Homo sapiens: one gene and its partners. The protein of the gene in region 3 purifies or fractionates together with the protein of the main gene of each other region. This does not show direct contact. Each region holds a gene or a part of one and is shown on either strand. Other genes may lie near its edges. The genes, in order: THOC3, TUBB4A, CCT6A, GNB1, TLE2, KDM4B and PDCL3.

Evidence for each region.
Region 1: the proteins of CCT6A (region 3) and THOC3 purify together in Homo sapiens (affinity purification with mass spectrometry; 3 studies listed by BioGRID and IntAct, with this or other methods). This does not show direct contact.
Region 2: the proteins of CCT6A (region 3) and TUBB4A purify together in Homo sapiens (affinity purification with mass spectrometry; 2 studies listed by BioGRID and IntAct, with this or other methods). This does not show direct contact.
Region 4: the proteins of CCT6A (region 3) and GNB1 purify together in Homo sapiens (affinity purification with mass spectrometry; 2 studies listed by BioGRID and IntAct, with this or other methods). This does not show direct contact.
Region 5: the proteins of CCT6A (region 3) and TLE2 purify together in Homo sapiens (affinity purification with mass spectrometry; 3 studies listed by BioGRID and IntAct, with this or other methods). This does not show direct contact.
Region 6: the proteins of CCT6A (region 3) and KDM4B purify together in Homo sapiens (affinity purification with mass spectrometry; 3 studies listed by BioGRID and IntAct, with this or other methods). This does not show direct contact.
Region 7: the proteins of CCT6A (region 3) and PDCL3 purify together in Homo sapiens (affinity purification with mass spectrometry; 3 studies listed by BioGRID and IntAct, with this or other methods). This does not show direct contact.

The regions. Positions count from the first base shown.
Region 1 is NC_000005.10:175,965,516-175,969,706, forward strand, and holds the start of THOC3 (THO complex subunit 3), read right to left. Parts: upstream 2,801-4,191; 5' UTR 2,694-2,800; coding exon 2,427-2,693; intron 1,753-2,426; coding exon 1,596-1,752; intron 1-1,595. UniProt on the Homo sapiens protein: Component of the THO subcomplex of the TREX complex which is thought to couple mRNA transcription, processing and nuclear export, and which specifically associates with spliced mRNA and not with unspliced pre-mRNA.
Region 2 is NC_000019.10:6,496,565-6,499,309, forward strand, and holds part of TUBB4A (tubulin beta-4A chain), read right to left. Parts: intron 1-2,745. UniProt on the Homo sapiens protein: Tubulin is the major constituent of microtubules, a cylinder consisting of laterally associated linear protofilaments composed of alpha- and beta-tubulin heterodimers.
Region 3 is NC_000007.14:56,058,265-56,061,764, forward strand, and holds part of CCT6A (T-complex protein 1 subunit zeta), read left to right. Parts: intron 1-97; coding exon 98-257; intron 258-355; coding exon 356-438; intron 439-1,279; coding exon 1,280-1,376; intron 1,377-2,004; coding exon 2,005-2,152; intron 2,153-2,205; exon of another isoform or gene 2,206-2,338; intron 2,339-2,542; coding exon 2,543-2,676; intron 2,677-3,482; coding exon 3,483-3,500. UniProt on the Homo sapiens protein: Component of the chaperonin-containing T-complex (TRiC), a molecular chaperone complex that assists the folding of actin, tubulin and other proteins upon ATP hydrolysis.
Region 4 is NC_000001.11:1,807,588-1,811,087, reverse strand, and holds part of GNB1 (guanine nucleotide-binding protein G(I)/G(S)/G(T) subunit beta-1), read left to right. Parts: intron 1-3,500. UniProt on the Homo sapiens protein: Guanine nucleotide-binding proteins (G proteins) are involved as a modulator or transducer in various transmembrane signaling systems.
Region 5 is NC_000019.10:3,001,781-3,005,280, forward strand, and holds part of TLE2 (transducin-like enhancer protein 2), read right to left. Parts: intron 724-3,500; coding exon 573-723; intron 1-572.
Region 6 is NC_000019.10:4,972,113-4,975,612, reverse strand, and holds part of KDM4B (lysine-specific demethylase 4B), read right to left. Parts: intron 1-3,500. UniProt on the Homo sapiens protein: Histone demethylase that specifically demethylates 'Lys-9' of histone H3, thereby playing a role in histone code. Does not demethylate histone H3 'Lys-4', H3 'Lys-27', H3 'Lys-36' nor H4 'Lys-20'.
Region 7 is NC_000002.12:100,572,993-100,577,239, reverse strand, and holds the end of PDCL3 (phosducin-like protein 3), read right to left. Parts: intron 887-4,247; coding exon 744-886; 3' UTR 501-743; downstream 1-500. UniProt on the Homo sapiens protein: Acts as a chaperone for the angiogenic VEGF receptor KDR/VEGFR2, increasing its abundance by inhibiting its ubiquitination and degradation.

The DNA of each region.
Region 1 (4,191 bases), on a different chromosome or scaffold from region 3:
CTGGGTTCACGCCATTCTCTCGCCTCAGCCTCCCGAGTAGCTGGGACTACAGGCGCCTGCCACCACACCAGGCTAATTTTTTTGTATTTTTAGTAGAGACGGGGTTTCACCGTGTTAGCCAGGATGGTCTCGATCTCCTGACCTCGTGATCCGCCCGCCTCGGCCTCCCAAAGTGCTGGGATTACAGGCGTGAGCCACCGTGCCCGGCCAAGCCAAGATTTTAAACCCAGATTTGACCCCAAAGCCCCCTTTTCTCTTACACCAGCATTTCTCAACTCCAGCCATTCGCATGCCAACATCACAATTTTTGTCCTATCCATTAAACACTATACTTTTCTTTATTCAAGATTTTTCTTAAAATTGATTCAAAAAAGTTTACTTAAATAAATTTAGCAGCCAGCTGTGGAGGCTCAAGCCTGTAATTCCAGCACTTTGGGAGGCCAAGGTAGGCAGATCACTTGAGTCCAGGAGTTCAAGATCAGCCTGGGCAATATGGCAAAACCCGTCTCTACAAAAAATTAGCCAGGCATGGTGGCATGTGCCTGTAGTCCCAGCTACTCAGGAGGTTGAGGTGAGAGGATGGCTTGAGCCCAGGTGGAGGCTGCAGGGAGCCAATATTGTGCCACTGTACTCCATCCTGGGTAACAGGGCAAGACCCTGTCTCAAAAATAAAAATAAAATAAAATAAATAAAAATAAAATAAATTTAGCTTCAACTGAATAATAAATTCTATGTGCTAGTTCTTCTAGTAGACATTAAGATATTTGCAAAACTGGTTTTTAATGTTCACCCACGCATCACCTGAATCACTCATGGATCAGCAGCTGTATACTTGGGGAAAAACCACACCATTCCGCCTCCAGAGATAAGTCTTGTCAACAAAGTCCAGTGGCCCACACTGAACACATCAATTAAAAATCTCACCAACTTTTTCCATTCTAAAACGCATATTTTCTCACATTTTAGTATCTACACTGTATCTTAAAATGTATCAGAAAGCATTTCAAAATTTTGGGTGTATCACAGTTATTTACCAACTTTCTTTCCTAATGGAACATCTTACGATCAATGAAAACTCAGAGTCCCATACAATATCGGCCTCAATACTTACAACAGAGCCTATAAATGTACTGCACAACTTTCTCCCAGATCACCAAGACCATCCAAGTTTCAACCATTCTAACTCATCAGAATTTTCCAAATTCTCCATGCCTTTGCACATGCCGTTCCCTCCTGGAAATGTCCCATTCCCCACCCACAGCACCCTGACCACTCAACTCCTATGGCTACCCTAAAAGTTTGCTCAAATTTGGTGAGGCCTTCCCTGGCTCCCCTAGGCAGACTTTTGTTTTCATTTCTATTCTGGGTATCCACCTTGCAGACCTCTCCATTATAAAATGAACCATATCTTGCTATGTTATTTGTATATATATGTCTTCTCCCCGCAGGGGAGGTCCTTGGAGCTGGAAACTCTTATTCAGCTCAGGATGTCTCATACACAGCTGAGTGCCAAGCACAGAAAAGATATTCGGAAAATGGTTGTTGAATGAATCCAAACAGCTTATCTTCCTATTGCCCTCTCTCTGAATAGTCACCTTTAGTGTTCACAGTGGCAATGCATTTTGTAGTCCTCACATCCCAGATGCGAATGGTTTTATCTCCGGACGCCGTAACAAATAGGTCAGGATTACTTGGATGCCAACAAAGCTGGTCCACACTATCCCCATGTCCCCGATAATTGTTTTCTTTGACCTGAAAGAACAGAATCCAGATGTGACTTCACATAGATGTAACTGCCTCCGCATGTAACTTTATAAGCTTATTCAAACCAAAGTATGCTGGGACCAGTAAAGATCTGGGTAATTCAGAATCCAGTTCCTCCAAGCCCTTTCTCCCTTCTCTTCTCCGCAGGCCTTCTGAACTGTTTTTCTCAGCTTCCACACCTATGCCCTTACTTTTGTGCCCTCCCTGGCCTTCTCCTCCTTCCTGGTTTTCCACCCTTACTCTACCACCAACGTACCACCAACGTACCACCACCAACGTACCACCACCACCACCACCACCACCACCACAGCCCCTAGCCACTTCTTATCAGCACAGGATTCGACTCCAAACCAGTAAGGCTCCCATCGCAGCCCTGTCCCATCCACCCTCTCCTCACCTTCACCCGCCATCGCCAACCTCCTTACTTCCACACTCTTCACACGCCCCCAGTCTTCCTCTCCTCACCCCTCACGACCCCGTCACCCCCACACTCCACCTTCTCCCTACTCCCTCCTCATCTCCACACTCCCCCTTTCCCCTTCCCTCAAACCCACTCTCCTTTCACCCCCGCGGCTCCGTTCGCCCCCATTCGCTCTCCCACTACCGCACCTCACTTCACCACGGCCCCTCTCCCTAGCCTGAGCCGAGCCCCGGCAGCTCACCAACCGGTCCTTCTCCAGCAAGAAGACGCTGGCCGTCTTGTCGAAGGACCCCGAGGCTAGGCGACGCCCGTCGCAACTCCAGGCCACCGAGTGCACCTTGGCGCTGTGCGCCAGGAACTCGCGCGTCTTGCTGTGGCCCCGGAACAGCTCCTGCATCCCAAGCACGTAGCGCGACGGGCCGCTGCTCACTGAGCACCACGGGGCCATCGAGCCGGGGCCGCTCTGGCCCAACGCCGAGGGCCCCATGGCTGCAGCGGGGACCGCCATGCCGAGCTCCCCAGCTTCCAACTCACAACACTGCAGCAGCCTCCACGGCGCAGTCAGTCCTGGCGCCGCTGCCGCACGCATGCGCCCGGAAGAGCGACGGCCCCTCTGCGCAGGCGCGCTGTACCCCGCCCCGGAAGGGACTACAAATCCCGGTATGCAGCGCGTGCCCGCGTCTGCTTACTTAGTAATATTTGGTTCTTTTAACTCCAAATATGCTTCACACTTAACGATTCCGAGTTTTTTTAGTGTTCTTATTTCTCCCTTACCTATTCTTTGGTAGATATATGTGTATTCCTGTTTAATCGAATAAAAGAACCAACACTAACCTTCTAAACAGTTAACTCATCACCTTTCTTCTGGGGTTGTTCCGTAATCCCTAGTCCCCTCCCTTAAGAGCAGAAAGCTCTGGTCTTTTTGCTGGAGAAGGACCAGCTGGTGAGCTTGTCCCATGAAAAGGGCTAGCGGGTGTGGAGTGAGGGAAGAGGTGTTAAGAAGGGGTCTGGAGGTTTTGTTTTTTTTTTTTAAATAAAAATGGATTTTTTGTTTTTAAAAGGTAATGGCAGAGGCGTGTGAACCAGAGCAACTCTATCTTAAATAGGAACTGGGTAAAATGAGGCTTAAACCTACTGGGCTGCATTCCCAGACTGTTAAGGCATTCTAATCACAGGATGAAATAGGAGGTCAGCACAAAATACAGGTCATAAAGACCTTGATGATAAAACAGGTTGCAGTAAAGGAACCGGCCAAAACCCACCAAAACCAAAATGGCGATGAGAGTGACCTCTGGTCATCCTCACCTCTACACTCCCACCAGTGCCAGGACAGTTTGTAAATGCCATGGCAATGTCAGGAAGTTACCCTATACGGTCTAAAAAAGGGAGGCATGAATAATCCACCACTTGTTTAGCATATCATCAGGAAAAACCATAAAAATGCGCAACCAGCGGCCCTCGGGGCTGCTCTGTCTATGGAGTGGCCATTCTTTTATTCCCTTTACTTTCTTAATAAACTTGCTTTCACTTTGCACTGCGGACTTGCCCTGAATTCTTTCCTGAGTGAGATCCAAGAACCCACTCCTGGGGTCTGGATTGGGACCCTTTTCCTGTAACAGTATTACATGCACATGATTGTAAATATAAAAATAAAAGATATAGAGTGAAAAGTAAATGTCCACCTGCGTATCCACCCCACCTCTCATATCTCCCTTAAACCAGTGGCTTCTTGCTGGAGAAAAAAGGGGTGGTGAGCTGCCAGCGCCAGTCAAGGCCCTGGAGAAGAGCTGAGGGGGGAAGGTTTTGGTGGTGAGTAGTAGTGGTAAATGTGTTTAAAAACCCAATTTTTAAAAGGCAACACGTGCACTTGGTAACAAATGTAAAATGTATAAAAGGGAATAGATTGAAAAGCTTCCCTCCATCCTGTGTCCCCAAACTTCTCTTCTGAAAAAGTTAAATTTCTTGTGTGGCCTTCCAGAGACAGTGTAAGTAAGCACCTGGGCAAG
Region 2 (2,745 bases), on a different chromosome or scaffold from region 3:
AACTTGCAGTGAGCCGACATTGTGCCACTGCACTGCAGCCTGGGCAACAGAGCGAGACTCCGTCTCAAAATAATAATAATAATAATAATAATAAATAATAACAATTATAGCCAGGTGTGCTGGTGAGCGATCGTAGTCCCTGGCTACTCGGGAGGCTGAGGCAAGAGAATTGCTTGAACCTGGGAGGAGGAGGCTGCAGGTAGCCAAGATTGAGCCACTGCATTCCAGCCTGGGTGACGGAGTGAGACTCCATCTCAAAAACACACATACACACAAAACACTCCCCCGCCCCCTGCCTAAAAAAAAACCAAGACTGGGCACAGTGGCTCATGCCTGTAATCCTAACACTTTGGGAGGCAGAGGTGGGAGGATTGCTTGAGCCCAGCAGTTCAAGACTAGCCTGGGCAACCTAGTGAGGCCATGTCTCTACAAAAAAAAAAAAAAAAAAAAAAAAAAAAAAATATATATATATATATATATATATATATATATATATATATAAATTAGCCAGTCATGGTGGTGGCACACCTGTAGTACCAGTTACTAGGGGGGCTCAGGTGGGAGATTGCTTGAGCCCAGGAGTTGGAGGCTGCAGTGAGCTATGATCACACCATTGCAGCCTGGGAGACAGAGCAAGACCCTGTCTCTAAAACAAATAAATAATAACAATAAAAAGATTAATATTTAACATCATTATTAATAATAATATCATTTTCAGGCAGGGTCTTGGTATGTTGCCCAGGCTGGAGTACAGAGGTGCAATCATGGCTCACTGCAGCCTTGACTTCCCAGGTTCAAGTGATCCTCCTGCCCCAGCCTTTTGAGTAGCTGGGACTACAGGCTTATGCTACCAGATCTGGCTAATTTTTGTATCTTTTTTTTGTAGAGGTGGGGTTTCGACATGTTGCCCAGGCTGTTCTTGAACTCCTGAGCTGGAGCAATCCACCTGCCATGGCCTCCTAAAGTGCTGGGATTACAGGCGTGAGCCACCATGCTTGGCCTGTGTTTTCTTGTTAATCATGTTTATTGTCTGCAAGCTCACTGTGGAATGCAAGCTCCCGGAGGAAAAGAATCAGTATTAGAATATTGGCCAGGCGCAGTGGCTCATGCCTGTAATCCAGCACTTAGGGAGGCCGAGGCGGGCAGATTGCGAGGTTAGGAGATCGAGACCATCCTGGCTAACACAGTGAAACCCTGTCTCTACTGAAAATACAAAAAATTAGCCGGGCGAGGTGGCGGGCGCCTGTAGTCCCAGCTACTCGGGAGGCTGAGCCTGCAGTGAGCCGAGATCGTGCCACTGCACTCCAGCCTGGGCGACAGCAAGACTCCGTCTCAAAAAAAAAAAAAAAAAAAAAGAAGAATATTGGCCAGGCGTGGTGGCTCACGCTTGTAAACCCAGCACTTTGGGAGGCCGAGGCGGGCGGATAGCGAGGTCAGGAGATCAAGACTATCCCGGCTAACACGGTGAAACCCCGTCTCTACTAAAAATAGAAAAAATTAGCTGGATGTGGTGGTGGGTGCCTGTAGTCTCAGCTACTCGGGAGGCTGAGGCAGGAGAATGGCGTGAACCCAGGAGGTGGAGCTTGCAGTGAGCCGAGATCGCGCCACTGCACTCCAGCCTGGGCGACAGAGTGAGACTTTGTCTCAAAAAAAAAAAAAATGGAATAAAAAAAAGAATATTGGCCGGTATTACTGTGAACAGCTAACGTTTTCTTTCACCCCTCATCTGTCTCCACCTTAGTTCAGCTCCAGCATCACCCTCCTGGATAAGTTCAATTCCCTCTGTCCTGGTCCCCTGGCTCCTACCCTTATCACCCAGTCTGTCCTCTCCACAGTACCCACGAGAGGACACCTGAGAGCAAGTAAGTCAGGTCCCGTCCCTCCTCTGCCTACAGCCCTCCATGGCTCCCACCTACCTTGGGGTCAAAGCCCAAATCCTCCCTGCAGGCCACAAGGCCCTGCCGGACCTGCCCCATCCCCTCCCTCACTCTGCTTCAGCCGCAGCTGTTACTCCAGCTTTCCAGGTGTGGTCCTGCCCTGGGGCCTTTGCACTAGTGGCTTGGCTGCTTAGAATGCTTTCCCCCCAGGTATTCACCTGACTTTTTCCTCACTTCCTTCAGGTCTCAGCTCAATGCCACATCCTCAGAGAAGCCACCTCTGGTCACCCCCTCCCTCCTCCTCCCGAGCCTGGTGGTTTAGACTGCAGATTCTCGGGACTGACAAGACAAACTGTGTGACCTTGGACAAGTGACTTCCCCTTTCTGATCTGTTGGAAGATTTCAAAACATAATGATGCAGTTTTGTGGCCGTGGCCCATCATAGGTCCTTGGGAAATGGCTGGGTGAAATCAAGATGAAATGAGATTGGCCAAATGGTGTGAGTGATTTCAGGAGGACCAGAGGGCTTACAGTTGGGCCAAGAGATTCTATGGCCTCTGGGTGGCCAGGGGGTGGGAGGAGCATTAAAAGTGTGGGCTCAGACCAGGCGCGGTTGCTCATGCCTGTAATCCCAGCACTTTGGGAAGCAGAGGCAGGCAGATCACCTGAGAGGTCAGGAATAGGAGACCAGCCTGGCCAACATGGCGAAACCCCGTCACTATTAAAAATACAAAAAATTAGCTAGGTGTGGTGATGCATGCCTGTAGTCCCAGCTACTCGTGAGGCAGGAGAATCGCTTGAATCTGGGAGGTGGAGGTTGCGTCACTGCACTCCAGCCTGGGCAACGGAGACTCCGTCTCAAAAAAAA
Region 3 (3,500 bases):
GAGCTCAGTGAACTGTTAAATCTTAGGACTAATCCAGTTTCAGAAGCTGCTTTCTTAATGTTTCCCTGCTTTCTGTAACTTTTTTTTTTCTTAATAGAGAAGTGAATTCTGGCTTTTTTTACAAGAGTGCAGAAGAGAGAGAAAAACTCGTGAAAGCTGAAAGAAAATTCATTGAAGATAGGGTTAAAAAAATAATAGAACTGAAAAGGAAAGTCTGTGGCGATTCAGATAAAGGATTTGTTGTTATTAATCAAAAGGTGAGAATGAAAACTCAATGTATAAACTAAATAGTACGTATCATCCTTTTTACTTTTAAGGTGAAAGATGTTGAAATTAATTTTTATTTTTGTTACAGGGAATTGACCCCTTTTCCTTAGATGCTCTTTCAAAAGAAGGCATAGTTGCTCTGCGCAGAGCTAAAAGGAGAAATATGGAGAGGTATCCGAGTAATTTGACTTTTACTCATTTTGCAAGTGAATTGGGATTATTTCTTTTTCCTTATACTTTATTTTTGGGTTTTTCAACTGTATAGTTAATTGGCATTAACTATATTCACATTGTGCACCCCGTCAGCACTGTCCATCTCTAGGACTTTTTTCATCATCACAAACTGAAACTGTATACCCATTAAATAGTTACTCCCCATTTCTCCCTCCCCCTTGCCCCTTGTAAACATTATTTTACTTTTTGTTTCTGAATTCAATATACTTTTTTCCAAAGAGCTCCCCACAATAAAAAGCTTTTTTTAAAAATTTTTTATTATTATTTTTTGAGACAGTCTTGCTCTTTCGTGCAGTGGCATGATCTTGGTTCATTGCGACTACCACTTCCTGGGTTCATAGGATTCTCAGCCTCCCGAGTAGTTGGGATTACGGGTGTCTGCCACCATGCCCACTGAATTGCTTTGTGTTTTTTTAGTAGAGATGGGGTTTTGCCATGTTAGCTAGGCTGGTCTCAAACTCCTGGCCTCAAGTGATCCACCCACCTCAACCTCCCAAAGTGTTGGGATTACAGGTGTGAGCCACCATGCCTGGCTAATAAAGAGCTCTTGTCCACCTTTTAGATTTCATTTGCTAACTTGGGGAGAGTGGTTTAAATGGAGGGTTAAGAGAAAAGACTAGTTTTTAGCTGGTTGATGGCAAATGGAAAGGCTTAAAGTACATTTTAAAATTTAATTTTGTGTGTAATTCTGAAAAATTCCTTCCTAAAAATTACTGGTCTTATCTTTGAAATTCACTGGTAACGTTGCTTATCCATCTCCCTTAAAATGCTATTTCAGGCTGACTCTTGCTTGTGGTGGGGTAGCCCTGAATTCTTTTGACGACCTAAGTCCTGACTGCTTGGGACATGCAGGACTTGTATATGAGTATACATTGGTAAGTGTATTTTTTTCTTAAAGGTAATAGAACCTTTTAGCTCGTGAATTATTTTTGTTTGTTTGTTTGAGGTGGGGTCTCACTCCTGCCCGGGCTGGAGTGCAGTGGTGTGATCACAGTTCACTACAGCCTCATCTTCCTGGGTTCAAGTGATCCTCCCGCCTCAGGCTTCTGAGCAGGTGGGACCACAGACGTGTGTGCTACCATGACTGGCTAATTTTTTTTTTTCTTGGTAATTTTTGTAGAAACAGGTTCATAATTGTGTTGCCCAGGCTGGTCTTAAACTCCCGGGCTCAGGCTGTCCTTCACCCTCAGCCTCCCAAAGTGCTGAGATTACAGGCATGAGCCACCGTGCCTGGTTCATGAAGTCTTTAGCAGAAAAATTAATTGAAATTCAGGATCAGATTTTTGTTTATATACATTTTGAAGGTTTATGTGTAGTAATGGGAAGCCATTGATGGGGAAAATCACATTTCTTTTATGTGATTTTTCAAAAGGAGATAATTTGCTTTAATGTGATCAAGTTTGTTCCTTATTAATATGCTACTTGTCATTCTCTGTAAGTCCCTCTTCTCTCTTCACTCTGCACAAATCCTGTTTTTGAAAATCATATTTTTTCTACACATAGGGAGAAGAGAAGTTTACCTTTATTGAGAAATGTAACAACCCTCGTTCTGTCACATTATTGATCAAAGGACCAAATAAGCACACACTCACTCAGATCAAAGATGCAGTGAGGGACGGCTTGAGGGCTGTCAAAAATGCTATTGATGATGGTAAGATCCTCACTGTATTTCAATTCTTTTATATTGTTTTGCTGGTCTGAAAGGCATGGCCGAATACTGTGTTTTTATCAGTAGTTTACACAGCCAGACACCATGCAAAAGCAGTCTTCCCTTTAGAATGACTGATGGTATGCTAAGGTTTTTCATAGCATATCATTATTAAAGGTGAATACAAATAAATGAACTAATACTGATCTGTTGAAAGCTGCCAGTGGCTAGTGAAGCCATTCTGGTTGAACCATTCTCCTATTTGGTATGTTAGTCACTTGTATTTTGTCATAGTAAATTTGTAAGAAATTAATGGCTTTCATATGTATATTTTGTTATTCATAATTAGTTCTGCAGTTTTCTTAGCATTTTTCCTTTTCCCCCATCCAACAGGCTGTGTGGTTCCAGGTGCTGGTGCCGTGGAAGTGGCAATGGCAGAAGCCCTGATTAAACATAAGCCCAGTGTAAAGGGCAGGGCACAGCTTGGAGTCCAAGCATTTGCTGATGCATTGCTCATTATTCCCAAGGTGTGCATGCTTTTAACAGTCAATCTTCCAAAAGATTCAGCTGATCAAACCTTTCTGATAATGTAGGATTTATTCATAAAGTGGATTTTGGATAAGCAAGTTTGATCAGTTTTCTTTCTGACTCTAGAACAGGTATTCCTCATCATCCAGATATATTTGGTTTCTCTGGGAAGCCTGAATAGCTGACATTGCAGATGGCAAGAGATAACCTGTAGTTTAATATTTGCAGTATTAGGGGTTATACTTGAGTACAAACTTGCTTTTTGCTTTTGTTTTAAACTGATATCATTGTTTTCTATTATATACCAGTTTTGATATATAATTTATGACTGGTGTATTGCTGCTGGGTTTGGGGTAGTTGAGAGAGTTGATCAGTAACTTGTGTCTGGTATTCTCTGAAGGGAACATAAATGTTCTGTCTTTATGCAATGAGTTTTTTTTTTTTTTTTTTTTTGAGACAGTTTTGTTCTTGTTTCCCAGGCTGGAGTGTAATGGTGCGATCTCAGCTCACTGCAGCCTCAGCCTCTCGAGTAGCTGGGATTACAGGCACCTGCCACCACACCCGGCCAGGTTTTTTTTTATTTTTAGTAGAGATGGGGTTTCACCATGTTGGCCAGGCTGGTCTCGAACTCCTGACCTCAGGTGATCCACCTTCCACGGCCTCCCAAAGTCCTGGGATTACAGGCGTGAGCCACTGCACCAGGCCGAGATTTTCTTTTTCTTTTTTCTTTTTTTTTTTTTTTTTTTTTTTTTTACTATCAGTTATTAGTTCCTGTTTTCTCAAGAATTAAATTTGTTTACTTTAGGTTCTTGCTCAGAACTCT
Region 4 (3,500 bases), on a different chromosome or scaffold from region 3:
AAAAAATATATATATATGTATATATATACCCACAAACATGCGCATTGCACTCCCGCCTGGGTGACGGATGGAGACTCTGCCTCAAAAAACAAAACAAAACACAAATAAAGCTACATGAGAGGCCAGGCACCGTGGTTCACGCCTATAATCCCAGCACTTTGGGAGGCTAAGGCGGGTGGATCACCTGAGGTCAGGAGTTTGAGACCAGCCTGCCCAATATGGTGAAACCCTGTCTCTGCCAAAAATACAAAAGTTAACTAGGCTTCATGGTGGGTGCCTGTAATCCCAGCTACTCAGGAGGCTGAGGCAGGATAATCGCTTGAACCCAGGAGGCAGAGGTTGCAGTGAGCCAAGATTGCACCACTGCACTCCAACCTGGGTGACAGAGTGAGACTCTGTCTCAAAAAAACAAACAAAAAAGAAAACTACATGCAAGGCCCACAATGATTACTTGTTATGTATGTATGTATTAATGTATCAGATGTACATTTGTAATATGTTTATCAATATATTTGTACTAAAAGGCAACTTTTTTTTTTTTTTTTTTTTTTTGAGACTGGGTCTCACTCTGTCGTCCAGGCTAGAATGCAGTGGTGCGATCCTAGCTTACTGAAGCCTTGAACTGCTGTGCTCAAGCAATCCTCCTGCCTCAGCCTCCTGAGTAGCTGGTACCACAGGTGCACATCACTGTGCCCAGCTAATTTTTAAAAAATATTTTTTGTGGGCCGGGCGCGGTGGCTCAGGCCTGTAATCCCAGCACTTTGGGAGGCTGAGGTGGGCGGATCACGAGGTCAGGAGATCGAGACCATCCTGGCTAACTCAATGAAACCCTGTCTCAACTAAAAATACAAAAAATAAGCCAGGCGCGGTGGCAGGTGCCTGTAGTCCCAGCTATTTGGGAGGCTGAGGCAGGAGAATGGCATGAACCCAGGAGGCAGAGCTTGCAGTTAGCCGAGATCCTCCAGCCTGGGTGACAGAGCGAGACTCCATCTCAAAAAATATATATATATATTTTTTTGTGGAGACAGGGTCTCCCTTTGTTGCCCATGTTGGTTTCAAACTCCTGGACTTAACCAATCCTCTTATCTCAGCCTCCCAAAGTGCTGGGGTTACAGGCATGAGCCACCACCCTCCCTCCTTTGAGTAAAATGAAGGGCATTAGGTGTTTTGATTTTTGACAGCTACTTTCAGGGTCCTGGAGCCTGTTAGCTTGCTTCCTGGCCCTTGCCTCTATGTTCTAGGTGAGTGGCACCTCAGATAATTGATTTTTGAGTAGGTAAAGGCACTACTAGGCAACGTGAACCCAGCTTTCCAACAGCTCCCTGACCCGGGACTAGGAGGCATGTCTTCTCTCACCTTCTGGAGGATCAGTGGACAGCTTACGTGTCCCTAATCCCTCTGGAAGTCAGCAGTTATTAAGCTCTCTGACCGGGAGACCTCTGTAAAGGTGATCCTCCTAATCTAGGAGGATGAGCTGCTTTAGATCAGCTCTGATACTCGACAGAAAGTCTCAGAAGGGCTGGGCAGAAATAAAGCTAGAGTGGGAACATGATACCATTACGTAGAAATAATTTTAAATGTTTAATATGTTGATGACAACCTGGATTGAGAAGTTTGCTTTAAGAATTGCAACTGAAGGCTGGGTGCGGTGGCTTACGCCTGTAATCCCAGCCGAGGCAGGCAGATTGAGCTCAGGAGTTCGAGACCAGCATGGCAAAACCCTGTCTCTACTAAAAATACAAAAAAGTAGCCAGGCATGGTGGTGCACACCTGTAATTCCAGCTAATGGGAAGGCTGACGCACGAGAATTGCTTGCATCTGGGAGGCAGAGGTTGCAGCGAGCTCCAGCCTGGGTGACAGAGTGAGACTCTCTCTCAAAAAAAAAAAAAAAAAAAAAATTGCATCTGAAAAATAATAGGATGGGAGCCTGCACTTAGTTTTTAGTTCTGTGATAAATTTTGTAATAAAGTGCAGGTGAAAAGGTTTTTATTTGTTCTTAAACTCATTGACACCTGTATCAAAACATCTAGTTTGATATTAAAAGTGTCAGAGTTATCAACAAAACTTGAGAGAGCGTTACTCCAGCTTTAGGTCAGCTTTAAGAAGCCACATATGTTCACAGCTGAAATAGTTAAAACCTGTGTTTTGAGGCGCTGTGGCTTATGTCTGTAATCCCAACACTTTGGGAGGCCAAGGTGGGCGGATCACTTGAGGCCAGGAGTTGGAGACCAGCCTGGGTAACATGGGGAAACCCCATCTCTACTAAAAATACAAAAATTAGCCAGGTGTGGTGGCACGTACCTGTAATCCCAGCTACTTGGGAGGCTGAGGCATGAGAATCACTTGAACCCAGGAGATAGAGGTTGCAGTGAGCTGAGATCACACCACTGCACTCCAGCCTGGGTGACAGAGCGAGACTCTGTCTCAAACAAACAAACAAACAAAAACAAACAAACAAAAAACCTTGCGTTTGATAGAAACTTTAAAATTAAAAATCCTTATACTATCATTTACCGTACTGACAGATATCCCTGCATCAAACAGTGGAACCTTCTTGCTCTTCCTTGAAAACAGCATTCTGTGCTACAGGGTTCCTTAGGACCTCTCATAAGCAACTGTGGTTCCCAGGAGTTACCTTTCACCCACCTTACTTGCCTGCTAAGGTGAAATTCTTTTGCTCCTTATTCATATTCTCCTTTGTAGTATGGAGCTCCTTTTCAACATGTGGATTCCGAACTGAGCACAGTTGCCAGAGCAAGGAAATAGTTATGAAAAAATTCATGGTCGGGCGCAGTGGCTCAACGCTTGTAATACCAAAACGTTGGGAGGCCGAGGTGGGCGGATCACCTGAGGGTCGGGAGTTCGAGACCAGCCTGATTAACGTGGAGAAACCCCGTCTCTACTAAAAATACAAAATTAGCTGGCTGTGGTGGCGCGTGTCTGTAATCCCAGCTACTTTGGAGGCTGAGGCAGGAAAATTGCTCAAATCTGGGAAGTGGAGGTTGCGGTGAGCCGACGCACCATTGCACTCCAGCCTGGGCAACAAAAGCAAAACTCCATCTCAAAAACAAAAAAAAGAGGCCGGGCGTGGTGGCTCCCGCCTGTAATCCCAGCACTTTGGGAGGCTGAGGTGGGCAGATCACGAGGTCAGGAGATCGAGACCATCCTGGCTAACATGGTGAGACCCTGTCTCTGCTAAAAATACAAAAAGAATTAGCTGGGCGTGATGGTGGGCGCCTGTAGTCCCAGCTACTCGGGAGACTGGGGCAGGAGAATGGCATGAACCCCGGAGGCGGAGCTTGCAGTGAGCCGAGATGGCGCCACTGCACTGCAGCCTGGGCCACGGAGCGAGACTCCGTCTCAAAAAAAAAAAAGAAAAAAAGAAAAAATTCGTGATAGTTACTGGTCTCTGCTCCCGGACCATGCGCAGTGGTGCTGTTGTTTACCAAGCAGGTGAGGAGGGAACGCCTCCTTTGGTTTCTAGGAGACCTTGATTCCAA
Region 5 (3,500 bases), on a different chromosome or scaffold from region 3:
TCTTTTCTTTCTTTTTTTTTTTTTTTTTTTTTTTAAGATAGAATCTCACTCTTGTCTCCCAGGCTGGAATGCAGTGGCATGATCTTGGCTCACTGCGACCTCCACCTCCCGGGTTCAGGCAATTCTCCTGCCTCAACCTCCCAAGTAGCTGGGATTACAGGCGCCCACCACCACGCCTGGCTAATTTTTGTACTTTTAATAGAGTCAGGGTTTCACCATGTTGGCCAGGCTTGTCTCGAACTCCTGACCTCAGGTGATCTGCCTGCCTTGGCCTCCCAAAGTGTTGGGATGACAGGCGTGAGCTACCACACCCAGCCTTAAATTTGAATCTCAGATAAGTCATCAGTAATTTTTAGGACAGGTATATCCCAAATACTTCATTATTTGGTTTTTAGTATAAGTATATCCCACACACCATTTGGGATATACTTGTACTAACGATTTGCTTTTGAGTATATAAAACTTAGTATATAAATAACATTATTTGTTATTTATCTAAGATTCAGATTGAATAGGCACCCTGGGTTTTGTTGGGGTTTTGAGGGCGTGCCACCCCGCCCCAGAAGACACACCGCAGGAGGCAAACTTCAGGGACAGCACGCAGCTCTCGTGGAGGTGCAGCTGGTATTTCTCCGGCTTGCGGACGTGCAGGATCTCCACGTTGCTACTCTCCATTCCGACCGCCAGCCAGTCCTGGTTAGGGCAGTGGCCCAGGGAGAAAATCTGGGGGTAAAGAGGGAAGAGATGGGGTCACGAGCCCCTCTTTGTTTTGTGTTGAGACAGGGTCTCACTCCGTCACCCAGGCTGGAGTGCAGTGGCACAATCATGGCTCACTGCAGCCTTGACCTCCAGGGCTCAAGAGATCCTCCTGCCTCAGCACCAGAAGCTGAGACTACAGGCATGCACCATCACGCTGGATAATCTTTTTTTTTTTTTGAGACAGAGTCTCACTGTGTCACCCAGGCTGGAGTGCAATGTTGCAGTCTCAGCTCACTGCAGCCTCTGCCTCCCAGGTTCAAGGGATTCTCCTGCCTCAGCCTCCAAAGTAGCTGGGATTACAGGTACCTGCTAGTACGCCCGGGTAATTTTTGTATTTTTAGTAAAGACGGCGTTTCACCGTATTGGCCAGGCTGGTCTCAAACTGCCAACCTCAAGTGATCTGCCCGCCTCGGCCTCCCAAAGTGCTGGGACTACAGGTGTGAGCCACCATGTCAGCCTACGAGCCCCTTTGGATATTGGGGGGTGCCCAGCACCATCAGGGGTTGCGGGGGTGGAGTCCAACATTCTCCCTCTTCAGCACCCCCCTAGAGAAAGGCAGCTGGCCCAGGACTGGGAACACAGCAGACAACTGCATGTCGAATCATTAATATTAATCAGAATTACACAGAACCCTAGGGCTGCACATCCATTATCTGCTCTGAGCGCACAACAGCACAGGGAGGAGGGAGAGAGGAGGGAGGAGGGACAGAGAAGGGAACAGCCAGGCAAGGACAATCACTCCCCTTAAGCAGATGATGGAAGCTGAGGCAGTGTCCCCTCAAGGTCACAGAGCAAGACTATGAAAGACCAGGCCTTGGCCGGGCTCTGTGGCTCAGGCCTGTAATCCCAACACTGTGGGAGGCCGAGGCGGGCGGATCATCTGAGGTCAGAAGTTCATGACCAGCCTGGCCAACATGGCGAAAACCCATCTCTACTAAAAATGCAAAAATTAGCTGGGCGTGGCTGCAGGCACCTGTAATCCCAGCTACTCGGGAGGCTGAGGCAGGAGAATCGCTTGAACTTGGGAGGTGGAGGTTGCAGTGACCTGAGATTGCACCACTGCACTCCAGCCTGGGTGACAGAGCAAGACTCTGTCTCAGAAACAAAAAACAAAAAAAATAAGACAGACCAGGCCTAGGAGACAGAACTTCTCACTCTTAGCTTGGAATGTTCCTTTTTGAGACAGACAGGGTCTTGCTCTGTCGCCCAGGCTGGAGTGCAGTGGTGCAATCATGACCCACTGCAGCCTCAACCTCCTCCCATGCTCAAGTGATCCTCCCGCCTCAGCCTCACAAGTAGCTTGGATTACAAGCATGTGCCACCACACCTGGCTAATTTTGTATTTTTGGTAGAGATGGAGTTTCTCCATGTTGGTCAGGCTGGTCTCGAACTCCTGACCTCAAGTGATCCACCCACCTCGGCCTCCCAAAGTGCTGAGATTACAGGCGTGAGCCACTGCACCCGGCCTCGGTTTGATTTTTAAAAGATTCAGGGTCCTCCACCTCATTTTAAGCACAAACAGGAATCAGGCTCTGTTCCACCCCAAACCTCTTGGAGTCTCACTAACAAGATGCCTGTGGAAATAACCACACATTTGCAGAAGAGAAGACTGGAGGGCTTCAAATGTCCTCTCCTGGCCATACAGAAGTGTTTCTGTGTAAAGACGCATTGGGGGACACCCAGTGAGCTAGGAGATATTCACCATGGGATCCCTAGAAATGTTCTTAGCCCACCTAAGCTTCGGGGCCACGGGATGGAGAGCTGTGTCCACCTGCACTCCTGAAAGAGAAGAGCAGGTTGGACATAAAGAGCTTGGGAGGGCAAGCGCGGTGGCTCAGGCCTGTAATTCCCACACTGGGAAGCCGAGGCAGGTGGATCACTTGAGGCCAGGAATCCAAGACCAACCTGGACAACACAGTGAAACCCTGTCTCTACCGACAAATACAAAAATTAGCCGAGCATGGTGGTGCGTTCCTGTAGTCCCAGCTACTCAGGTGGCTGAGGCACAAGAATCATTTGAACCTGGGAGGCGCAGGTTGCAGGGAGCTGAGATCACAACACAGCAACTCTGTCTCAAAAAAAAAAAAAAAAAAAGAGGAGCTTCGGAGTTAGGAGTTAGCTCCTCTTAGGTTTCAAGGAGGAGGGGCAAATGAGATGGGTCTTGAGGGATGAATAGGAGTTTGCCAATTACAGAAAGAAGAGAAAGGCATTTCAGCCACAGGGAACAAATGTGCAGAGGCCTCAGAGCTGTCCCGGAGTATGGTGTGCATGAGACCAGCCCATGGAAACCCTGAATGACAGAAGAAGGAGCTCACAGCTGCCCCCAAAGCAGTGAGAGGCAGGATCTGGGGTCACGGTGCCTGAAGATTCACTCTCTTTGCCCAGCCCTGAGGAGCCCCCAGCTCTGTCCAGCCTGTTCACCATGTCCTTCAGCTTAGACTCCACCTTCAATGGGGATCTCTCCATGCCCAGCTCCTCCTACATCAACCTCCACTCTGTCCTCCTGGCCAGTAGCTCCCCCATGGTTAGTCCTCAGTTGGGAAGTGTGTGTCCCGCGCTCTCGGCGGCGTCCAGAGATTAAAGGCTAGAAGAACCACCCAGCTACACGAGGAAAGGCACATATAAGGGTATGGCTGGACAAAAGCAGGTGGGGAAGATGATCTGGGGGTCTCAGTAGCCCCACAGCTTCCTATGAATCAGCTCTTTTGTGTTCCCCTACATCTTTAGAGAGTTACAGGGGA
Region 6 (3,500 bases), on a different chromosome or scaffold from region 3:
TCAAAAAAAAAAAAAAAAATTCATTCACTCAACAAGGAATGTCCACTCAACACCCACCACGTCTAAGGAGCTGCCGTACATTCTAGGGGTCGTGAGGCTGACATGGTTTCCATAGCTTTCCGTAGTGTGGCCCTCACACCCTAGCCAGGTATTTGCAAACTACAACCCACAGGTTCAATCCTGCCCGCCACCTGTTTTTGTACAGCCTGCAGTCTAAGAATGGTTTTGACATTTTTTAGTCGTTGGAGGAAAAAAAAAGCAAAAGAAGAAAAATGTCTTATAATGTAAAAATTGCACGGAATTCACGTTTGTGTCCATAAATAAAGTTTTACTGAAACACAGGCACACTCGCCCACGGGAGCTTTCTTGCTACAACGGCAAAGCAGAGTGGTCTGGACAGAGATGACCTCTGGCTTACAAAGCCAAAAATATTTATTCTCCGGCCCTTCCAGAAAAAGCCCCTGCCCTAGTAGATGAGACAAACAGATACACAAACAGACTAATACCCAGCTCTGATCGTGTGACATGCAAAGGAGGAGAAGTAGGGAAGGGAAGTGACTAGAGTGATAAGGAGCCGGCTGGGTGGAAAGAGAACCAGGCAGCGGGCACAGCAAGTGCACAGGTCCTGCGGCAGGGAAGGGCGGGCAGGGAAGGCGGCTGTGCCAGGAAAGGAGCAGGTGCAGGAGGAAGAAAGGGAGGAAAGGAAGGAAGGACAAGGCCACAGATGACAGAGCGAAGGGGCCACGCGAAAGGGCCCAGAATTTTTCCCAAGGGCAACAGGAAGTCACCGGAAGGTTCTGAGCAGGGGAAAATCTTTTGTTTGTTTGTTTGTTTTGGTTTTTACTCCTTTGACTACCTTCTTTTTTTTTTTTTTGGAGACAGAGTCTCGCTCTGTCTCCCAGACTGGAGTGCAGTGGTGTGATCTTGGCTCACTGCAGCCTCTGCCTCCCAGGTTCCAGAGATTCTCGTGCCCCCACATCCCGAGTAGCTGGGACTACAGGCGCCCACCACCATGCCCGGCTGATTTTTGTATTTTTGTAGAGATGGGATTTCACTATGTTGGCCAGGCTGGTCTCAAACTCCTGACCTCAGGTGATCCTCCCGCCTCGGCCTCTCAAAGTGCTGGGATTACAGGCGTGAGCCACCACACCTGGCCAGTTTTTTATTTTATGTATTTATTTACTTACTTACTTACTTATTTATTTATTTTTGAGATGGAGTCTCGCTCTGTCGCCCAGGCTGGAGTACAGTGGCGCGATCTCAACTCACTGCAAGCTCCGCCTCTCGGGTTCACACCATTCTCCTGCCTCAGCCTCCCGAGTAGCTGGGACTACAGGCACCGGCCACCACCATGCCCGGGTAATTTTTTTTGCATTTTTAGTAGAGACGGGGTTTCACGGTGTTAGCCAGGATGGTCTCGATCTCCTGACCTTGTGATCTGCCCGCCTTGGCTCCCAAAGTGCTGGCTTTACAGGCGTGAGCCACTGCGCCCGGCCACTTATTTATTTTTTTGAGACGGAGTCTTGCCCTGTCACCCAGGCTGGAGTGCAGTGGCAGGATCTCGGTGCAATTCTCCTGTCTCAGTCTCCCAAGTAGCTGGGACTACAGGTGTGCACCGCCACGCCCAGTTAATTTTTTTATTTTTAGAAGAGACGAGGTTTCACCATGTTGGCCAGGCTGTTCTCGAACTCCTGACCTCAGGTGATCCGCCCGCCTCAGCCTCCCAAAGTGCTGGGATTACAGGCATGAGCCACCGCACCCAGCCAGTTTTTTTTTTTTTTTTTTTTTAATATGCTTTGTTTCAGAGAGCAGTTTTAGGTTCACAGCAAAACTAAGCAGGAGGTAGAGACTTCCCATGTTCCCCGCCCCAACAGGGAAGGCCATTTTCCGAGCTCCTCAAGGGAGCAGGAGGGAATAGACGGACCCAGATCTAACCAAGTCCAGCATCCTAGAACAGGCCAGTCACGCAGGGAGTGAGCTTGAAAATTAATTTGTCCAAAAACCAAGAAACATCAATTCGTCAATCCACTCCCCCCTCAGTATTTGGGAAGATACAAATTTTCTTTTTTTTAATATAGTGGTTAAGCTCATTTGAACGCGAATTAGTAAAAGTATGTGCAACTTGGCCGAGCATAGTGGCTCATGCCTGTAATCCCAGCACTTTGGGAGGCCGAGGCAGGCGGATCACTTGAGGTCAGGAGTTTGAGACCAGCCTGGTCAACATGGTGAAACCCCGTGTCTACTAAAAATACAAAAGTTAGCAGGGTGTGGTGGCGGGCACCTGTAATCCCAGCTACTCGGGAGGCTGAGGCCAGAGAATCACTTGAACCCGGGAGGCGGAGGTTGCAGTGAGCTGAGATCTAGCCACTGTACTCCAGCCTGGGTGACAGAGTGAGATTCTGTCTCAAAATAAATAAATAAAAGTATGTGCAACTAGCACATTAACGTTCCACAACTCTGGGGACATTACTGTTCAGGAAGAGGCCAAGATCAAAGAGGTGAGTCATTTTTAAATGGACTTAAAGAAAACTGTCTGGCAAATCGACAGGTCAGGGCTATGGTGACTGGGAGGGTGTGGAAGTGCCACCCCTGGGGGCAGCCAAGCAAGCCTGGGCAAGGACCTGCCAAAGCTCAGAGGCCAAAGAGCAGCCCAGGAAGACCCGGAGCTCAGAGGCCAGAGAGCAGCCCAGAAGACCCCACAGATGCCGGGCTGCCCCTCATTGCAGGGCGTGCAGGGGACCCCGTGGGGGCTCCTGTCCTCTCAGGTGGAAGCTGCCACCCTGGAAGGGCAGAAGGACAGTCACGGAGAACCTGAACAACCAGGTGAGGAGTGTGTCCGGGACACAGTTTGCAAATAGGAGTCACTCACTGCTAAAGGGTGAGTGGGGAGGAAAGAAAGGGAGCTGAGGCCCATCACGGTCACAGCACACCATGAGCTACTGCAGGGCTGAAGGCCAAGTCCAAGGTTCTCACTGCGGGGTTGACAGTGCTTCCCAGGGGACATTTTTGGTTGCTACCGCTTAGGGGACAGGGTGCTACTAGCATCTGGTGGGTGGTGGTCAGGGATATTGTTCACACTCACCCTACGGTGCCCAGGACAGCCCCGCCACAGAATGTCCCAGCCCAGAACGTGGATAGGGCAGAGGTGGGGAGACCCTGACAGGGCAGAGGGCCTTGCTGTGTAATAAACCGGCTCCGAACTCAGAGCTCCTGGCACCCTGCAAGCTTCAGCGCCTTTTACCCGCTTTGATCCTCACAACCACCTGGGAGGGAGGTGTTCCCATTACACCCATTTTACAGAGAAGAAAGCAAGGCCCAGAGAGGGGAAGTGACTGCCTCAGAGGAGGGATCTGAATCCAGGTCTCTCCAACTCTGAAGCCTGTGTGGGGCATGGGACAGAGGGCAGAGATCCAGAGACGTCGTCAAGACCACCAGATGAGAACGGAGCCCAGGCTGGGCCCCTGCTCTTCTGTCCGGCATCCTAAGCCAGGAACAGAGAC
Region 7 (4,247 bases), on a different chromosome or scaffold from region 3:
CGTGATGGTGCACGTCTGTAATCCCAGCTCCTCAGGAGGCTGAGGCAGGAGAATTGCTTGAACCCGGGAGGTGGAGGTTGCAGTGAGCTGAGATTGTGCCACTGCACTCCAGCCTCAGCAACACAGAAAAGCTCCATCTCAAAAAAAAAAAAAAATTAGTTAACAGTCTGAGATAAACTATTTTAACAAGAAAACACATTTAACCAAATATGGCAGTAAACTGGAAACTTTCAGTTATTGCTTCAATAAGGGAATGTTTCACAAAAATTGTCTGTTTCTTCAATACTAACATTCTTTTGTCCTAGAGACCATTCCTGTAGTTTAATAATCTCACTGCTCTCTTTATAAAATAAAAATAAACAATGTATCTATAAGGCTTAGTCTGCAATTTTCCACTGTATAATTTATTCACATTTAAAACTGTATTTCTTTTTATAGTTATATGTCAAAAAATAGTGACTAGGTTTTATGGCTTACTTAAAATATAAATGAGGAAAACAGACATTTGCCATACAAATGGCTGGTTTTAATTTTTTTTAGAGGAAATACTATAATTTAAAAAAAAAAAGAGTTCCAAAATATTTAACAGAATCTCCAGCAATGATTATTTCCAAAATGTAAAGATTTGAAACATAATTTATACAAAACTAAAAACCACAAGGATTCATTCTTGCTTTTTCCTTTTTTAAAAAATCCAGACAATTTGTCACAAGAAAGTTCGGCATGTGATAGAAGCTGTAGCCTCAGTCACCCTCGGAATCGCTGTCCCTCTTCATGAGGACAGAGCGCCGCACTGAGGACAGCAACACGTCTTCAATCGGCTTCTTAGGGTTTTCCTCCAGGTCTGTCATAATTGCTCCAGATTCAGACAGTTTCCATTCCAACTCTATATGGTAAAGAAAAAGCAAATTGCCTAAGGCACTGTGCTGCAAAGGTTCCCTCGCCCTAAGTCCATCAACCTAGTTTTTTCTAAGTAGAAAATACAATTATCGAAATTTGGCCCAGCACAATGGCTCACGCCTGTAATCCCAACACTTTGGGAGGCTGAGGCAGGAGGATCACCTGAGCCTGGGAGGTAGAGGTTGCAGACATTTAAGATCACACCACTGCACTCCAGCCTGGGCAGCAGTGAGACTGTCTCAACAATAAAAATAAAAGTAAATAAAACATAAAAATTCACTGGGTACAGTGGTGGTGTGTGCTTATAATCCCAGCTGTTTGGGAGGCTGAAGTGGCAGGATCGCTTGAGCCCAGGAGTTCAAGGCTGCAGTGAACCATGATCATGTCACTGCACTCCAGCCTACACGACAGAGCGAGACCCTGTCTCAAAAATACAAAGAATAAACCTATCCTCTGATGACTACAATTTCCCAGGAAGGAAATCAGCATGAAAAATTTGAAGGAAATAATTTCCACAGACCTTCTGGCAATCTAATCATTAAATCCAATTTTAATAAACTCTTCAGCCTCATGTCCAGTATCTCAATCTATTGGGGTCAAAGAATAAATGTATGGTGATACCCTAGAACTTACACATTTGTTCCAACTAATCAAAAAAGCACCAGATAATAAAGAATCAGTAACTGAAGACTCAGCTCCAATACTTCACTCTTAAAATCAGCAAAATTCTTGTGGTCTGAGACCAAGTGAAGCAAAATCAAGTGATGTATTTGCCTACTTCAGAGAAGAGCCCAGGCAGAACCAAAGGACTACGTAAGAGATTCTACAACAAATGGCTTCGCTTAAAGGAACATCAAGGCAGAGAGTTCTGCTAACTGGACACATCGATTAAAATCTGAAAACCAGGCCGGGCGCGGTGGCACATGCCTGTAATCCCAGCACTTTGGGAGGCCAAGGTGGGCGGATCACGAAGTCTGGAGATCGAGACCATCCTGGCTAACACGGTGAAACCCCGTCTCTACTAAAAATACAAAAAATTAGCCAGGCATGGTGGCAGGTGCCTGTAGTCCCAGCTACTCGGGAGGCTGAGGCTGGAGAATGGTGTGAACGTGGGAGGCGGAGCTTGCAGTGAGCCGAGATCGCGCCATTGCACTCCAGCCTGGGCGACACAGCGAGACTGTCTCAAAATAAAAAAAATCTGAAAACCAATTTTACTGAAGTCTTATCTTAATCTACTTTTTTGGAGACAGGCTCTCACTCCATCACCCAGGCTAGAGTGCTATGGGTGCAATCATAGCTCACTGTAACCTTGAACTCCTGGGTTCAAATGATCCTCCCGCCCATCTCCCTAGCAGCTGAGACTACAGGTGTGCACCACCACACCTGGCTACTTTCTTTTTTGTAGACATGGGATCTCGCTATGTTGCCCAGGCTGGTCTCAAACTCCTGGCCTCATGCAATCCTCCAGCCTTAGCTTCCCAACATGCTAGGATTACAGGCTTCAGCCAACGTGCTCAGTTGAATTTTACTTATTAACTTAAAGTGTTCCATGAAACAGAGAATAGAATGGTGGTTATCAGGGGAGGAGTGGAAATGGGAGATGTTGGCCAAGGATACAAACTTTCAGTTATAAGATGGTAAGTTCTGAAGACCTAATGTAGAACATGGTAACTACAGTGAATAATAACGTATTGTATACTTGAAATTTGCTAGGAAAGTAGATCTTAAGGATTCTCACCACAGTGAGGGCAGCTATGTGAAATGATGGATGGTTAATTACTTGGATTGTGGTAATCATTTCACATTGTACCTCTATTAAATCTCCATGTTGTATATCTTAAATATATTCAATTGTTTTGGTCATCATACCTCAGTCATGCTGGGTAAAAAAAAAAAAAGTGTTCCACGAAGATGAGTAACACCAGTATTTTCGGCTCTAGGTACTTTGGTTGAATGTTATATAAATTCAACCTGTTTCTTAAAAAAAAAAAAAAACAAGACTTCAGATTCCTGACTCAAGAATTTATATCCAGCCAGATGTGGTGGCTCAGGCCTGTGATCCCAGAACTTTGGGAGGCTGAGGCAGGTGGATCACTTATCACTTGAGGTCAGGAGTTCACAACCAGCCTAGGCAACACGGTGAAACCGTCTCTACTAAAAATACAAAACTTAGCCAGGCATGGTGGCACATGCCTGTAGTCCCAGCTACTCAGGAGGCTGAGGCACGAGAATTGCTTGAACCCGGGAGGCTGAGGCTGGAGTGAGCCAAGATAGTGCTACTGCACTCCAGCCTGGGTGACAGAGCAAGACCCTGTCTCAAAAATTAAAAAAATATATATATCTCTCTCTATATATATATCTTTATATATCCACACATACGTACATAAGTGTTTAATGTTACTGTTCACTTACACAAAGCAATCGTTATATGTAAGTTCACTAGACTTCAAGACTTTTTTTTAGAAATAAAAACAATTGCACACTTCTCTCTCCCCTCATGGTACATTCAAAAAAGGTCAAAATAAGATGCAAACATGTATTTAGTTTGAAATGCTGTACGCCTTTGAACACTGGAATATGTAACTGATGTATCTCCTATATGTGTGTGTTTATGTATGTTTGTATATTTATACTTTCCCCAGCTGAATATCTTTTTTTTTTTTTTTTTGAGATAGAGTTTCGCTCGTTACCCAGGCTGGAGTGCAATGGCATGATCTTGGCTCACTGCAACCTCTGCCTCCCAGGTCAAGTGATTCTCCTGCCTCAGCCTCCGAGTAGCTGGAATTATAAGTGCCCGCCACCACGCCCAGCTAATTTTTTGTATTTTCAGTAGAGACAGGGTTTCACTATGTTGGCCAGGCTGGTTTCCAACTCCTGACCTCAGGCAATCCACCCGCCTTGGCCTCCCAAAGTGCTGGGATTACAGGCATGAGCCACCGCACCCGGCCGCCAGATGAGTATCTTAGTGGTACAGTATATAAAGTCATGTTTAAAAATGTCTTTCTGGTAAAGCATAGTTGGAAATATTATTTCAATAAAGAGATAAAGAGTTTCACTTGGCAAGAATGCCTCTGGGCTGAGGTTCTCCTTCACGTTCTGTGTGGGTATGTATTTTGATACCTCCATGTTTAACAGGTAGAAAGGAATTTAAAAACACAGCCGGGCGCGGTGGCTCACATCTGTAATCTCAGCACTTTGGGAGGCTGTGGCGGGCAGATCACGAGGTCAGGAGTTCAAGACCAGCCTGGCCAACATGGTGAAAACCTGTCCCTACTAAAAATACAAAAATTAGCCAAGCGTGGTGGTGGGCGCCTGTAATCCCAGCTACCTGAGACGCTGAGGCAGGA